Regions from separate parts of the Homo sapiens genome. Here region 2 is linked to region 1. The links come from fine-mapping of genetic effects on gene expression. Tissue or cell type: thyroid. Region 1 holds a variant in brackets; the other region holds the start of a gene. All regions are shown on one strand. Distances are between the middles of the regions.

What was found. PIP is the estimated chance that this variant, and not a neighbour inherited with it, causes the effect.
Region 2: it holds the start of LINC01569, and the variant in region 1 is fine-mapped to the expression of LINC01569 in thyroid (GTEx, PIP above 0.99).

The regions. Positions count from the first base shown.
Region 1 is chr16:4,302,872-4,310,971 of GRCh38, reverse strand. No RefSeq gene overlaps it. Among named protein-coding and RNA genes, the nearest start is that of GLIS2, 9.1 kb to the left of the region's middle. RefSeq lists an enhancer at 5,149-5,661. The variant G/C (reference allele first, on the strand shown) is at 3,265.
Region 2 is chr16:4,250,042-4,258,133 of GRCh38, reverse strand. It overlaps LINC01569 (long intergenic non-protein coding RNA 1569), which reads left to right and starts at 4,345. Exons shown (of 3, transcript NR_039999.1): 1 at 4,345-4,487; 2 at 6,100-6,812. It overlaps TFAP4 (transcription factor AP-4), which reads left to right. Exons shown (of 7, transcript NM_003223.3): 7 at 1-948. The coding sequence ends at 79. RefSeq lists a silencer at 4,077-4,336 and enhancers at 4,567-4,776, 4,841-5,463.

The sequences.
Region 1 (8,100 bases):
TGATCCTCCTACCTCAGCCTCCCAAGGAGCTGGGACTACAGGCATGTGCCACCACACTCAGCTAATTTTCATATTTTCTGTAGAGACAGGGGTCTCACTATGTTACCCAAGCTAGTTTCGAACTTCTGGGATCAAGCAATCCTCCTGTCTTAGCCTCATAACAGGCGTGAGCCACCATATGCAGCTGAGACCCTGTCTCTTTTTTTTTTCTGAGACGGAGTCTTGCTTGTCACCCAGGCTGGAGTGCAGTGGTACAACCTCTGTCTCCCAGGTTGAAGCTATTCTCCTCCCTCAGCCTCCTGAGTAGCTGGGATTACAGGCGTGTGCCACCACATCCGCCTAATTTTTGTATTTTTAATACGGATGGGGTTTTGCCATGTTGGCCATGCTGGTCTCTAACTCCCGACCTCAGGTGATCCACCCACCTCAGCCTCCCAAAGTGCTGGGATTACAGGCATGAGGCACCGCGCCTGGCCCTTAGACCCTATCTCTAAAAAACCAAAAAAAACAAAAAAACAAAAGAAGTAACCCTTGAGACCTACATTGTAGATGTAGGAGAGATGACAGGAATCAGAATGGATGAATGGTGGCAGATCCAGACCTCTGGCCCTTGACCTTGGCCAAGCCCTCTAACCTCTCTGAGCCTCGGTTTCCCCATCTATGAAATCGCAGTCCTCAGGGTACCTATTACCACTGGCCTCTGTGAGGCTCAGTGGGAAGTGCACAGAAAGGGCTTCCAGCAGCACGTGGCTGGGAGAAAGAGCCCGCAAATGGTAGCTATTATGAATGAAGCAGCCCACAGCGGGCAGAGCCCAGTCACAAGGCAGGAGTGATGGAGGGAGTGAGATCAGGATGACTTATCAACCCTGAGCCGGTGGCCTGGCGAGCCTCTCTCTCCATTGGCGCTGGCTGGCTGAGCCTACAGAGCTGGGGCTGTCTGCGGGTGGGGTGTTTATTCTAGGAAGCGGCCCTGGCTGCTTCTCATTCCCTGCCCCAGGGAGAAAGGAGGGCTTCAAGTCAGAACCGAAGCCATGCTGGGCCTGGCATGTACAACACAGCGCCACCTGCCCGCAGGGCCCAGAGCTGAAAATGCCCAGGAGGTGCAGCCCCAGGGGCCTGGCTGGGACTTGCAGATGTGAGACACTCCCAGGGTGACCCACCTGACTCCCCAAGAACCTGTCCTGCAAAGCCTAAAATGCTCAGCTTTTGGAAGTCTAGAGACTGGGTCCTGCATTCCAGGGCGGGGACGGGATGGGGCGCCTGGGCTAGGGGGGAGAGTTCTATCAGAGGTGGGGATGTCCCTGGTGGCAGCGCTGTCACCCTTGGGCTCCTTCATCAGAGGCTTGCTTCATGGAAGCCATGTGAGCTATGCAGTTGCACAGGGCTGGCCCTTAGAAGGGCCTGAGTGTGGCTGAATGTTCTGCTGTCACCGTCTTGAAATTCTTAATCATTTTAGAACATGGCCCGCGAATTTTCATTTTACATTACGCAGCCTGTCCTGCCTTCATGGTTTCGTTTCTCCTAGCATGTAGCTTCTCCCTCCCATCAGTGTGGCGCACAGACCCAACCTTCAGCCACATCCAGCAAGACAGGAGTGCCTTAGGTAAGCCTCATTTCCTGAAAGGCCGTGGGAGACATGCACCTGCCACCCCAACCCAGCAGGACCAACCTTTCTGGAAAACCTGAGGCCGGCTGTGTGACGTGGGTGAGTCACTCAACTGCTCTGAACTTCTCGGTATCATAATATTGCACAGATCCTTGGGAAGTTTAAAAGAGGTAGTTTTGGGCTGGGCCTGGTGGCTCATCCCTGTAATCACAGCACTTTGGGAGGCCAAGGCAGGTGGATCTCTTGGGGTCAGGAGTTCAAGACCAGCCTGGTCAACATAGTGAGACACGGTGTCTACTGAAAATACAAAAATTAGCTGGACATGGTGGCACACGCCTGTAATCCCAGCTACTCAGGAGGCTGAGGCACGAGAATCGCTTGAAACCAGGAGGCAGAGGTTGCAGTGAGCTGAGATTGCACCACTGCACTCCAGCCTGGGTGACAGAGCGAGACGCCATCGCAAAATAAATAAATAAAAAGTAAAAAAGGTAGTTTTGGTTGGGCACAGTAGCTCACGCCTGTAGTTCCAGCACTTTGGGAGGCCGAGGCAGGAGGATTGCTTGAGCCCAGGAGTTCGAGAACAGCCTGGGCAACATACTAAGACCCTGCCCCATCTCTACAAAAAATTAAAAAATTAGCTAGTTGTGGTGGTGCATGACTGTAGTCACAGCTACTTGGACAGCTGAGGCGGGAAGATTGCTTGAACCCAGGAGGTGGAGGCTGCAGTGAGCCGATTGTGCCACTGAACTCCAGCCTGGGGGACGGAGTGAGACCCAGTCTCAAAAAAAAAAAAAAAAAAAAAAAGGCCGGTCACAGTGGCTCAGGCCTGTAATCCCAGCACTTTGGGAGGCTGAGGTGGGCGAATCGCTTGAACCCGGGAGGCAGAGGTTGCGATGAGCCCAGATCACGCCATTGCACTCCAGCCTGGGCAACAGAGCGAGATTCCAACTCAAAAAAAAAAAAAAATTTAAGATTATTGCAGGGCTGGGTGCGCCGTCTGACGCCTGTAATCCCAGCACTTTGGGAGGCCGAGGCGGGCAGATCACGAAGTCAGGAGTTCAAAACCAGCCTGGCCACCATGGTGAAACCACATCTCTACTAAAAATACAAAAATTAGCCAGGCGTGTTGGCGCGCACCTGCAATCCCAGCTACTCGGGAGGCTGAAGGAGGAGAATCGCTTGAACCTGAGAGGCGGAGCTTGCAGTGAGCCGAGATCGCGCCATTGCACTCCAGCTCTGGGCGACAGAAGACTGTCTGACGGGGTAGGGGAAAGATTGTTGAAGGCGCTAACTTGGAGGGAGAGGAGTCCGCCCGGGATCCCTAAGGACCTGCCCCGGGGAGGAGGAGCCGTCCCTCCCTTGGCCCCTCCCCTCCTGCCTTCCGAGGGAGGAGACCCCCCCAGGGCAGGAACGAGGGGGCGGAGAAGCGCGAGCGACACATTTTTGAGTCGTGACCAAGTGGAAACTCCCTCCCCGAGGCGGAAGCTGGGGGCGCCCCACTGGGGCCCAAGCCTCCGCCGGGGCGGGATTCCAAGCCAGGGGCGGGGCGCCGCCGGTGACCCGGGCCCCGCCTCTCGCCCGCCTCATGAATATGAACAAGCCGGCTGGTGAGCGGAAGTGCGAGGCGGCCCCAGGCTGGCTGGCTCTGCCGCTGAGAG[G/C]GGGGCGCGAGTCCGGGGGGCGTGGCCTGGCTCGGACGCCCCGCCCCTACCCCCACGCGGGGCCTCCTTCCGGCCGGCGCGCCCCGGACGTGACCTCGCGGGCGCGCGCCGGGAGCCGCCAGACTGGGCGCCGACAGCATCCTCCGGGGGTAGGCGCCCACAGTCATTCTTTCCATCGCTGCGGACACGGGAGTCAGAAGTGAAACAGTCCTGTCCTCGTGGGGCTTACGTTCCAGGCGCAAGAGCCACAGGTAGTCGAATTGGGAAACCGCCTCGGATGTCACATAAGCGCCCAGGGAGGACAGGGCAGGACAGGGCCTCCCTGGGGAGGTGACTTGAGTCAAGACTCAAAAGAGGGAAGCGAGGGAACAAGCCATGCGAGGAACTAACGAAGGAACATTCCAGAAAGATTTCACATCCCAAGCCTAAGGTCCAGGGGCAGCAGGCATTGAGGCGGATGTGGCTGGAGTGGAGAGAAAGAGGAATTAAAAGGATGGAGTAATGACAATAATGGCTCACATTTTTTAGCAAGAGGTGGGTTCACTACCTATCTGTCGTTATCTGGGGGGAAATTAGGCTCTGGGAGGTCAAATAACTTGCCCAAGGTCACACAGCTTGTAAGTGGCCAGACCAGCATTGGAACCCAAGGGGACGGATGTCTGAAACACACCCAGGAGTCCCAAGGTGGGATGACCTTGACCAAGACAGGCCCTTTACCCCTTGCCTCAGTTTCATCCCAAAGAGCTGCCCAAACACAGCTTAAAATCAGGGCACAGAGCAAGGGTGTAGCTGAGTGTGCGTAACATCTGTTCTCCTGGGAGATGCTTTTGTTGTCTGGGAAGCACTTGTCACCTCTCCAGGCTCTGGAGCAGGTACAAGTGGCTTCGGGGAGAAAGGGTGGGAGCCGGGAAGAGGCTGCTTCTGGTGGCAGGAGGAGAGAGGGAGTGGGTGAGGGGCCCCGGGCTGGCTGAGTGCTCTGGAGCATGACAAAGGCAGTGTCAGCCAGGCAGCTGTGTCCGCCACTAGCAACCGCGCAGGCAGCATCCCCCGCCATCCCTCTGAGCCTGGAGAGATTGAAACACACACAGTCAGCGTGCCTGCTGCCCAGGTGAGGTGCAGAAGGCCTGGGGGTTGCCAGTCTGGGCTCTGCCGCGAGAAAGTGGCTTTTCTGCAGCCGGAAGCGGGGAGGAAGTGTTTTCACCCTTCTACAAAGCTCTGTCTCTGCCTCTGGATCCACGGTGCTGCAGGCCTGAGGGCTCTCATGGGTACGGGCCTGGTGAGTAATCTAGAATTTGCCCCTTCCCCAGCCTGGTGCAGCCTCTAGTCTCGGCCTTCACGCTCTGCTGTAAAATGAGGCTGGGTCAGGAGTGGGACCCATCCTCCGTGTTTGAGGAGCTGGGCTATTACATGAGCCCCTACCTGAGGTCGCCAGCGAGTCAGAGGTCCTGGTGGGACCAGACCAAAATGGAACCTACTATCGGGCCCATTTTGAGAGGGAGACAGAGAGAAGTTAAAAGTACATGCACACACAGCTCTAAAGTAGCAGAGATGGCATTCAAGTCCAAAGCCTTTGACTCCAGGACGGGCACAGTGGCTCACACTTGTAATTTCAGCACTTTGGGAGGCCGAGGTGGGAGGATCTCCTAAGCCCAGGAGTTCAAGACCAGCATGGGCAACATGGTAAGACCCTATCTCTATTAGCGGGGCGTGATGGCACATGGCTGTAGTCCCAGCTACTCTGGAGGCTGAAGCAAGAGAATCGCTTGAACTTGGAAGGCAGATGTTGCAGTGAGCTGACAGAGCAAGATTCCATCTCAAAACGAACAATCAAACACTAGTCTTGCCCGGCGAGGTGGCTCAGGCCTGTAATGACCAGCCTGGCCAACATGGTGAAACCCCTTCTCTACTAAAAATACAAAAATTTGCTGGGCATGATGGCAGGCGCCTGTAATTCCAGCTACTTGGGAGGCTGAGGCAGGAGAATCCCTTGAACCTGGTAGGTAGAAGTTGCAGTGAGCCGAGACCGTGCTATTGCACTCCAGCCTGGGCAACAAGAGTGAAACTCCGTCCCCAAAAAGAAAAAAACACTAGCCTCAAGCCACAGCCATGTCTCCAACCTTCCCGGCCAGGTTTCTCAAAAGAGGGGGCTACCTGAGGTCACCCACTCCTGCCGAACTCCAGGTGGGCTTCCTCATCCCTTGCTCTATCCTAAACTGTTCCTTAAGTGACAGTTCACACCCTGACGTCTTCCAAGCTGAGACCCCACCAGCAGCTAGCTTTTCCTTTGTGGTTCCACCCACCTCCTAAATCCCTTTAGCAGCCGGGTGCGGTGGCTCGCGCCTGTAATCCCAGCACTTTGGGAGGCCGAGGCGGGTGGATCACGAGGTCAGGAGATCGAGACCACGGTGAAACCCTGTCTCTACTAAAAATACAAAAAAATTAGCTGAACGTGGTGGCGGGCGCCTGTAGCCCCAGCTACTCGGGAGGCTGAGGCAGGAGAATGGCATGAACCCGGGAGGCAGAACTTGCAGTGAGCTGAGATCGCACCACTGCACTCCAGCCTTGGCGACAGAGTGAGACTCCAGCTAAAAAAAAAATCCCTCTAGGGTCCTGCGCCTCTGCCTGTAGCCCCTAAAACCGAATACTCCTGAAAGTTTTATCCTGGGAACCCCTTTCCTTGACACTTTAACTCCGTGGAAGAGGCAAAAGTGAGGGGAACCCCCATCTCTACTTAAGAGTTCCCCACATATTTTTTATTATTATTTTTTTCGTGACGGAATTTCACTCTTTGTTTGCCCAGTCTGGAATGCAATGGCACAATCTCAGCTCACTGCAACCTCTGCCTCCCGGGTTCAAGTGATTCTTCCACCCTAGCCTCCCGAGAAGCTGGGATCACAAGCGCCCACCACCACACCAAACTAATTTTGTATTTTTAGTTGAGACGATTTCACCACGTTGCCCAGGCTGGTCTCGAACTCCTCAGATGATCGGCCCTCTGCCTCCCAAAGTGCTGGGATTACAGGTGTGAGCTCCTGCGCCCGGCTCAGAGTTCCCCATATTTATACTTGCCCTCCAGGGCACACTGGCCTCCATTTTTAGGGACTTGCTTGGTATCTGCCCTTGGGTAACCCACTGGAGCTTTCCAGTTGGACTCCTTGATTGGAGGGGAATCTGGCTACACCTGTCGCCCCAGGATGGACCAGCAGGGCCCGTCTTGAGGCTGCACTCGAGGATAGAGGAAAAAGTGTCATCTTTAAGAGTCCCACCGAGTAGCCAGGTTTCCCTGCCGGAAATTCCTGCCTTGTTTTCCTTTCCCTGGTAAAACTAGGAGAGCCACCTCATTTTCCTGAGCCCTGAGCCCTGAGCGCCCGCCCCCACCCCCGTTGGTTCTAGCTACACAGGCTTTCGGCCTCAGGGTTGCTTTGCACCATCCCCTTCCCCCGACCCAGGCAAGTTCGCTTCTGCTTCTCTCTTGCCCAGCCCTCATTAGCAGGCTCTGACACTTCTCAGCCGCCTGTCCGCTTTGCAGAGAACTGACATGTGAGCTGTGCCCAGGGACATCTGCTGAATGGGCGGGTCCCCTGCCGGACCAGTCCATCTGTCCCTCACTCAGTGTTCCTTCTGAGCTGAAGCTGCCCAGCATCCCCCATCTGTGTGAGTATTCACACAGCGCTGGCCAAAGCCCTGTCGGGAATCACGTGATTCAGATCCTGGTTTTGCCCCTGTCAGCCTTAGGACAAGACAGATTTCTTTTTCTTTGTTTCTCCTGAGATAGGGTCTCACTCTGTCGCCCAGGCTGGAGTGCAGTGGTGTGATCTCAGCTCATTGCAGCCTCAGCCTTTGGGGTTATAGCAAGCCTCCCACCTCAGCTTCCCAAGTAGCTAGGATTATAGGTGCACACCACCATGCTCAGCTATTTTTTTTTACATTTATATTTAGTAAAGACAGGGTCTCACTGTGTTTCCCAGGCTGGTCTCAAACTCCTGGCCCCAAGTGATCCTCCCGCCTTGGCCTCCCAAAGTGCTGGGATTACAGGCATGAGCCACCATGCCCTGGCTACCCAACAGATTTCTTTTCTTTTTTCCCCCCCAAGACGGAGTCTCACTCTGTCATCCAGGCTGGAGTACATTAGCGCAATCTTGGGTCATGGCAACCCCTGCCTCCTGGGTTAAAGCAGTTCTTCTGCCTCAACCTCCCGAGTAGGTGGGATTACAGGCGCATGCCACCACGCCCGGCTGGCTAATTTTTTTGTATTTTTAGTAGAGACGGGGGTTTCGCCATGTTGGCCAGGCTGGTCTCAAACTCCTGACCTCGTGATCCACCTGCCTCGGCCTCCCAAAGTGATGGGATTACAGGAATAAGCCACCATGCCCGTCCCACCCAACAGATTTCTTGAGGTGAGTTTTGGTTTCCTGGCATGGTATTGGCTACATGACCTCATCTGTAATGTCTTTGGCAAACAGAATAACTTGTTTTGTATTACTATGTTTAATCTTCAAAATCACCCTATTGAGTAGATTGTCACAATCAGGCCTGTTTTGTGGATGAAGAGAGGGAGGCTTGGAGAAGCCGCGTGGTTCATGCAAAAATGCAAAGCTGCAAAGTAGTGGCGGTGGGGTTCAAGTCCTGACGCTTTCACCACTGAGCGCCTTGCCATCCCCTGCTGCCATCCTCTCTTGGTTCTGATACTTCTTTTTTTTTTTTTTTTGAGATGGAGTCTCACTCTGTCGCCCAGGCTGGAGTGCAATGGTGTGATCTCGGTTCACTGCAACCTCCACCTCCCACGTTCAAGCGATTCTCCTGCCTCAGCCTCCGGAGTAGCTGGACTACAGGTGC
Region 2 (8,092 bases), 53 kb after region 1:
CTCCGACTCCGAGGCCTCAGACAGTGACGCCATGGACCAGAGCCGGGAGGAGCCGTCGGGGGACGGGGAGCTTCCCTGACTACCCCCCCAGCCCTCCTCTCCCTTCTGGGGGCTGGAGGGAGCCGGGGCAGCCACAGGGAGAGACATGGGCGAATGAGTGAGAAATTTTTACAAAATTACGATGTCATTTGGGTCTCTTTTATGACCTCTTTTTCAATACTGTAAATCGACCTTTGAACGAAGCCACTCAACCCGAGGTCCCGGGGCTGGGGTGTCGCAGAGCGTGTGGGAGCATCGGCACCCCAGGGCGGGGCCTCGGCCCCGGGGGCTGGAGGAAGCTGACACGGAGATGCCTGGCCTCTCTCTGCCAAAAAGCATTTTTTCCTTTAAATATGTTTTTTAAGAACAGGGAAAATTAAACAAAACCCCAGGTTATTTCTTCCCTGCCCAGAGCCAGCCTGGGATTGTCAGCCTTCAATCCCCTTTCCTTCCTCTTTTTGGGTTTTCTTCTTTCTCCTTTAAGCACTTACATGGTTGGGGGTAAGACTAGGCTGGGGCATTCTGGGGGCCCGGAGGTCTCCGTTGCTTCTTGGTTGGGGTTTGCTGCTGCTGTGCCCCCCTCCCCCTTCCCCATCTCGGCACTAGAATTCGCCACTCTCCCACCCCCCAGCCCCCACCTCTGCCTCCAGGTCTCATCTTCCACCCCAAAAATGTCTGTCTCTCTCTTTTTGTTTTGTTTGTTGTTGGTTTTTTATTTCTTTTTGGTTTGCTTTCTGTTTTTGTTTTGTTTTTCTTTTTTTTCTTTCTTTTTTTTTTTTTTTTACAATTTTGAGGTCTTCGTGTTCAAGGAGAAGCTATTATATTTTGTTAAGAAAGTGGGGAGAAAAAAACCAAGAGGCCACCGTGCCTTTGTAAAGAAACAAAATAAAGTTTGTACTTTGTTTTTTAGATTCTGAGTCTCCTGGGTGTGGGCTGGCCTGAAGACCAGGGCAGGGCTACCCCATCTAGAGTAGGGGGGCTCCTTGGGCCCCCCAAAGCGGACTGGGTGTGTGTGAGCACAGTTACTCCCTCAGCTTGTGTGTGGTGTTGCGATGAAAAATTGGGGTCCTCAGTTTCCCTGGGATGACCCTGGGTATTCTGTAAAGATGGAAGATGGTGTTGAGGCTGGGGAGTGGCTCTTTGGTGGGCGGCAAGGAGAGAAGGACAACCAAGCCACCGATTCCGAAAACCTGGGAAAGGACACAGGTGTTCAGGGGCCCTGCTTGGTCCCTACGCTTTGGTTAATCCCTAGGTTTTGCCACTTCCTGGGCTTCTGTAACTTCTCTGAGCCTCATCCTCTCCTCCCCTAGGAGGGGAACCCCACCCCCTCCAACCGCACCCCCCCAGCACCCCCCTGCCCCCCCGTGGTGTGGTGTTTAAGTGCTAAGATCCTGGAATTGGTCTGCCAGAGGTCAGTTCCCCCTCTGACAAACCGCTTCCTCTGAGCCTCAATTTCTTCTTCTAAAAATTGGCGATAATAACGGCACAAGGACATTGCATCCTATTGGGGATTGGCATGGTCCTTTATTTCGAGACAGAGTCTCTGTCTCCCAGTCTGGAGTGCAGTGGCGTGATCTCGGCTCACTGCATCCTCTATCTCCTGGGTTCAAGCAATCTTCTTGCCTCAGCCTCTCAAGTAGCTGGGACTACGGGAGTGCACCACCATGCCCAGCTAATTTTTGTATTTTTAGTAGAGACAGGGTTTCACCATGTTGACCAGGCTGGTCTTGAACTCCTGACCTCAAGTGATCCGCCTACCTCGGCCTCCCAAAGTTCTGGGATTAAAGGGATGAGCCACCATGCCTGGCTATTTTTAAATTTTTATTATTATTTTTTGGTGTGAGATGGGGTCCTGCTCTGTCGCCCAGGCTGCAGTGCAGTGTTTTGATCACAGTTCACTGCATCCTTGACCTCCTGGTCTCAAGTGATCCTCCCACCTCAGCCTCCCTAGTAGCTAGGACTACAGGCCTGTACCACAAAGCCTGGCTAATTTTTTTTTTTTTTTTTTTTTTTGAGATGGAGTCTTGCTGTGTCACCCAGGCTGGAATGCAATGGCACGATCTTGGCTCACTGGAACCTCTGCCTCACAGGTTCAAGCGATTCTCCTGCCTCAACCTCCTGAGTAGCTGGGACTACAGGCACCCACCATCATGCCCAGCTAATTTTTGTATTGTTAGTAGAGATGGGGTTTCACCATGTTGGCCAGGCTGGTCTTGAACTCCTGACCTCAGGTGATCCACCCACCTTGGCCTCCCAAAGTCCTGGGATTACAGGTGTGAGCCACCGTGCCTGGCCTGGGCCCGGCTGACTTTTTTATATTTTATTGTAGAGGCAGGGTTTTGCCATGTTGCCCAGGCTAGGCCATGGTCCTTTAAATCCTTCACTCTTCCGTGACCAGAGATCGATTTACACCGTGGTCCCCTCCTATGCCTCATGCTCACAGTGCTGGGTGCTTGGGGACTGAGGCCAGAGCAGAAGGCAGAATCACAGCTCACCCCACGATGACAGTGGACACGAACTCTTCACAGAAAGGCAGGAGTCTGCAGGTTTTCTTGGAATTTTACAGTGAACAATTCAATGGCACTTCATACATTCACAGTGTTACACAGCCTACCTGGTTCCAAAACATGTCCGTCACTCCAAAATGACTCCATGAAGCAGTCACTCCTTCCCCCTCCTCCCAGTCTCCAGCAACCACCTGCTTTCTGGTTTTAATATCTTTTTTAAAAAATTAAAGTAGTTGGCTGGGCGTGGTGGCTCACACCTGTAATCCCAGCACTTTGGGAGGCCGAGGCGGGTGGATCACATGAGGTCAGGAGTTCAAGACCAGCCTGGCCAACATGGTGAAACCCCAACTCTACTAAAATACAAAAATTAGGCTGGGCACAGTAGTGGTTCACGCCTGTAATCCCAGCAGTTTGAGAGGCCGAGGTGGGCGGATCACTTGAGGTCAGGAGTTTGAGACCAGCCTGGCCAACATGGTGGAACCCCGTCTCTACTAAAAATACAAAAATTAGCCTGGCATGGTGGCGAATGCCAGTAACTGTGGTCCCAGCTACTGGTGAGGCTGAGGCAGGAGAATCACTTGCACCGGGGAGGTGGAGGTTGCAGTGAGCTGAGATTGTGCCACTGCACTCCAGCCTGGGTGACAGGGCGACACTCCATCTTAAAAAATAAATAAATAAATAAATAATTTTTAAAAATGAAAGTAGTTACATTTAGTAGAAGTCACACTTTCTGATTTTTGGTTTTGCGTGTTTCCTACACGCAAATGCATAGTTTCCTACCCACCACTATGATCAAGATATGATTTAAAGAAAAAATAAAACAGGCCGGGTACGGTGGCTCACGCCTGTAATTCCAGCACTTTGGGAGGCCAAGGTGGGCGGATCACCTGAAGTCGGGAGTTCGACAGCAGCCTGACCAACATGGAGAAACCTTGTCTCTACTAAAAATACAAAATTAACCGGGCGTGGTGGCGCATGCCTGTAATCCCAGCTACTCGGGAGGCTAAGACACGAGAATCGCTTGAACCCAGGCGGCGGAGGTTGCGGTGGGCCGAGATCGCGCCATTGCACTCCAGCCTGGGCAACAAGAGCGAAACTGTCTCAAAAATAAATAAATAGATAAATAATAAATAAAACCAAAGCAAAATAAAAAAGATATGAATTAGTTCCTTCATTTCCAATGCCCCCCATGCCTCTTGGTGGTCAACCCAGCCCCTAGGAGCCACTGATCTATGTTGCCATAGTCTTACCTGTGACATGTCATAGAAATGGGATAACCCTGCCTTTTGAGCCTGGCTTCTTTGCACTGCAGCCAATTTTCTCTTGCTGAGATTATCCAGCTAAATTTACATAGGATCTGGCCCGGCACAGCGACCCCTTTCGGCCAGGTGCGAAACGGCAGGCCCGACGGTCCCCACGCAGCTCCTAAGAGGATCAACAGAGGGCGCAGTGCGCCCGGAACGCCCAGCCCCTGCGAAAGCGGAGGCTCCTCTCTCGGTCCCTGCGGGACAGCTCAGTTCTCATAGGCCAGAGGCGTGGCTTGGGGGCGGGCCAGGGGAATCCCACCTCCCCTTGCATGCTCAAGCGCGCCGGGCGATGGTAGGCGGTCTCACCCGCAGGCGGTGGAAGTCAGGGGCGCGGCTGCGGCCCCGCCCCTTCCCGGACTCGCCCCGCCCGTCCCCTCGCCGCGCATGTTCCCAGACGCCTCAGGCCATGGCGCGCGCGCTCCCGCCAGCACGCACGTCTGGCCCCGCCCCCGCGCCTGGCGCCCGCGCGCTCTCTCGCACGATCTGCTCCCGGACTCCTTCAGCGCGCTGCCTGCCTGCCCAGGGCCTTCCCGGAGAGCAGGTGACGGCGGCCTCCGGGCATGGAGCTCGCGCTGACGAAAGGTTCTGGAAGCCGCCGTAAAAAGTAATCAAGAAACGGGTGACAGGACTTTTCGTAAGACATTTAATTTTTACCCAGAGTATCCGAAACATTGCCGTGTCAATCTCAGTGCGATGGGAGACTGCCGGCCCCAAGGAGCTGCTCGTCCTTCTGCCGAGTTCCGGCCCGGACCCGCGGAGGAGGAGACCGCCGCGCCGGAGCTCGGACCTGACGTTTTTGTGAAGCACAGGGGGCGTGGGAGGGACCGGATCAATGCGGCACTCAACAAAACCTGTTTTTAAAAGAGTCGTGCTGTGTCGCCCAGGCTGGAGTGCAGTGACGCGATCTCGGCTCACTGCAGCCTCCACCTTCCGGGCTCAAGCGAGCCTCCCGCCTCAGCCTCCTGAGTAGCTGGGATTACAGGCACACACCTCCAGCTCGGCTGTTTTATTTATTTATTTTTTTTTTGAGACGTAATTTAGCTCATGTTGACCAGGCTGGAGTGCAGTGGCGCGATCTGGGCTCACCGCAACCCCCGCCTCCCGGGTTCAAGCGATTTTCCGCCTCAGCCTCCTGAGTAGCTGGGGTTGCAGGCATGCGCCACCACGCCCGGCTAATTTTGTACTTATAGTAGAGACGGGGTTTCTCCATGTTGGTCAGGCTGGTCTCGAACTCCCGACCTCAGGTGCTCCGCCCGCCTTGGCCTCCCAAAGTGCTGGGATTACAGGCGTGAGCCACCTCTCCAGGGCCAAAAGCCTTTTATTGGAGTACTGGGTAACACATTCAGAAGAGGGTGCATAGCTTAGGCGCTCCGTGAATTTTCACAAACTGAACATACACCCAGGTAGCCAACACCCCCAGCAAGCCCCAGAATCCCCTCATGCTTGCTTTCTGCCACTATCAAGCAGTTTGCTTTCTTTCAGATTTTTAAGTTTTGAAATAATTATTGAAATGTACAGGGAGAAGTCTGGGTTGGTGGTTCTAACCTGTAGTCTCAGCTACTAGAGAGGCTGAAGGGGGAAGATGGCTTTAGCCCTGGATTTCTAGACTAGCCTGGACAACATAGCAAGACCTCATCTCTATTTGTTTTTGAGACAGAGCCTCGGTCTGTCACCCATGCTGGAGCGCAGTGGACCTCCGCCTCCCGGGTTCAAGTGATTCTTCTTTCTCAGCCTCCCGAGTTATTTGGGATTACAGGTGTGCGCCACCACGCCCAGCTAATTTTTTTGTATTTTTAGTAGAGACGGGTTTCACCATGTTGGCCAGGCTGGTCTTAAACTTCTGACTTAAGGTGATCTGCCCGTCTCGGCCTCCCAAAGTGCTGGGATTACGACGTCAGCCACTGCTCTTGGCCTATCTTTTTTTTTTTTTTTTTTTTTAAAAGAAAGAGATGTATAGGGAGATCACCCAGTATCCCTCAGTGTTAACATCTTGCATAGCTACAGTTAGCATAGAAGCCAGGTAATTGACATTGGTACTGTACATGGGACTTACTCAGATTTACACGTTTTTTAATGTTTTATGTGTATGTAGTTCTCTATTCTCTACCATTTTTATGAGAGTTCCAGTTGCCTTGCATTCCCACCAGCACTTAGTATTGTCAGATTTATCATTATTTAGGTATTCTGGTAGGTGTATGGTGGAATCTCACCATAGTTTTAATTTCTTCTCTTTTTTTAAAAAATAGGAACAAGGTCTCACCATGCTGCCCAAGCTGGTCTGAAAACTCTTGTCCTCAGGCAGTCCTCCCACCTCGGCCTCCCAAAGATCTGAGATTACAGGCATGAGCCACCACACCTGGCCTTGGTTTTAATTCCTGTCACAGTATATTAGTTTTCGCTGTTGTGTATTGATTGATTGAGACAGGGTCTCGCTCTGTTGCCCAGGCTGGAGTGCAGGGGCATGATCCCAGCTCACTGCAACCTCCACCTCTTGGATTCAAGTGATTCTCCCGTCTCAGCCTCCCGAGTAACAGGAACCACAGGTGTGTGCCAGCACGCCTGGCTAATTTTTTTTTTTTTTTTCTTGAGGTGGAGTTTCACTGTTGTTGCCCAGGTTGGAGTGCAGTGGCACAATCTCAGCTCACTGCAACCTCTGCCTCCTGGGTTCAAGTGATTCTCCTGCTTCAGCCTCACGAGTTGTTGGGATTACAGGCGCCCGCCACCACGCCCAGGTAATTTTTGTTTAGTAGAGACGGGGTTTCACCATGTTGGCCTGGCTGGTCTCGAACTCCTGACCTCAGGTGATCCACCCACCTCGGCCTCCCAAAGTTGTGGGATTGCAGGCGTGAGCCACTGCGCCTGGCCTAATTTTTCAATTTTTTGGTGGAGATAGGGTTTCACCATGTTGGCCAGGCTGGAGTTTTGCCTGTTCTAGAAGCTTGTATCAGTCATACAACACGTAAGTTCTTTTTGTCTAGCTTCTTTTGCTCAACACAATATCTCTGAGATTTATTTATGTTTTTATGTAAACATAAATGTTCATTTTTCTTGCTAAGTACTATTTCATTGTATGAATAGACCACAGTTTGTTTATCCATTCACCTAGTGGTGGACATTTTATTTATTTTTATTTATTTATTTATTTATTTATTTTTGAGACAGAGTCTTGCTCTGTCGCCCAGGCTGGAGTGCAATAGCTCAATCTCAGCTCACTGCAGCCTCTGCCTCCCAGGTTCAAGCCATTCTCCTGTCTCAGCCTCCCGAGTAGCTGGGATTACAGGCACACACCACGACACCCTGCTACTTTTTGTATTTTTAGTAGAGACAGGGTTTCACCATGTTGGTCAGGCTGGTCTTGAACTCCTGGCCTCGTGATCCATCCACCTCGGCCTCCCAAAGTGCTGGGATTACAGGCATGAGCCACCGCACCTGGCCATGGTGGACATTTATGTTGTTTCCAACTTAGGGCTATTATAACTAGATTTTAGTAGCTACCATCCCCCAAATGCATGGTACCAATTTTCTCTCCTACCAACAGCATGTAAGGTGACAGTTCAGGAGAAGTGTCCTAAGCATGTGTCATGGACCCTGTTTGGGGGGTGATTTCTTTGAGGCGGGGCCAGGCATTCTTGGTTCTCTGTGGCCTCCCCTGCCCTATTTTTTTTTTTTTAGATGAAGTTTCACTTTTGTCACCCAGGCTGGAGTGCAGTGGTGCTATCCCGGCTCACTGCAACCTCCGCCTCCTGGGTTCAAGCGATTCTCCTGCCTCAGCCTCCCGAGTAACTGGGATTACAGGCATGCACCACCGTGCTCAGCTAATTTTTGTATTGTTAGTACAGACAGGATTTTGCCATGTTGGCCAGGCTGGTCTCCAACCCCTGGCCTCAACTGATCCACCTGCCTTGGCCTCCCGAAGTGCTGGTATTATAGGCATAAGCCACCGCGCCTGGCTGGTCCCCTGCCCTATTTTAAGAGTCTCTATTAGGGATAAACTTCATGGAAAATGTATGTCTGTTCTAAGAATGTTCTCAAGTGTCATTACCTTGTGCTGTATCTGTTTCCTCTTTACGAGGATTCTCAGAAGAAATTCTTGCCGAGTCTCAATAGTTGAAATAATTTCACTCCTTCCAAGCATTTGGTTTGCTCTTATTTTAAGGACACTGAATTGGGCAGGTGGTCAAGTTACACACATGTGAGGGACTGAAATATATGGTGTCATTTTTTCCCGTTAGTCTTACG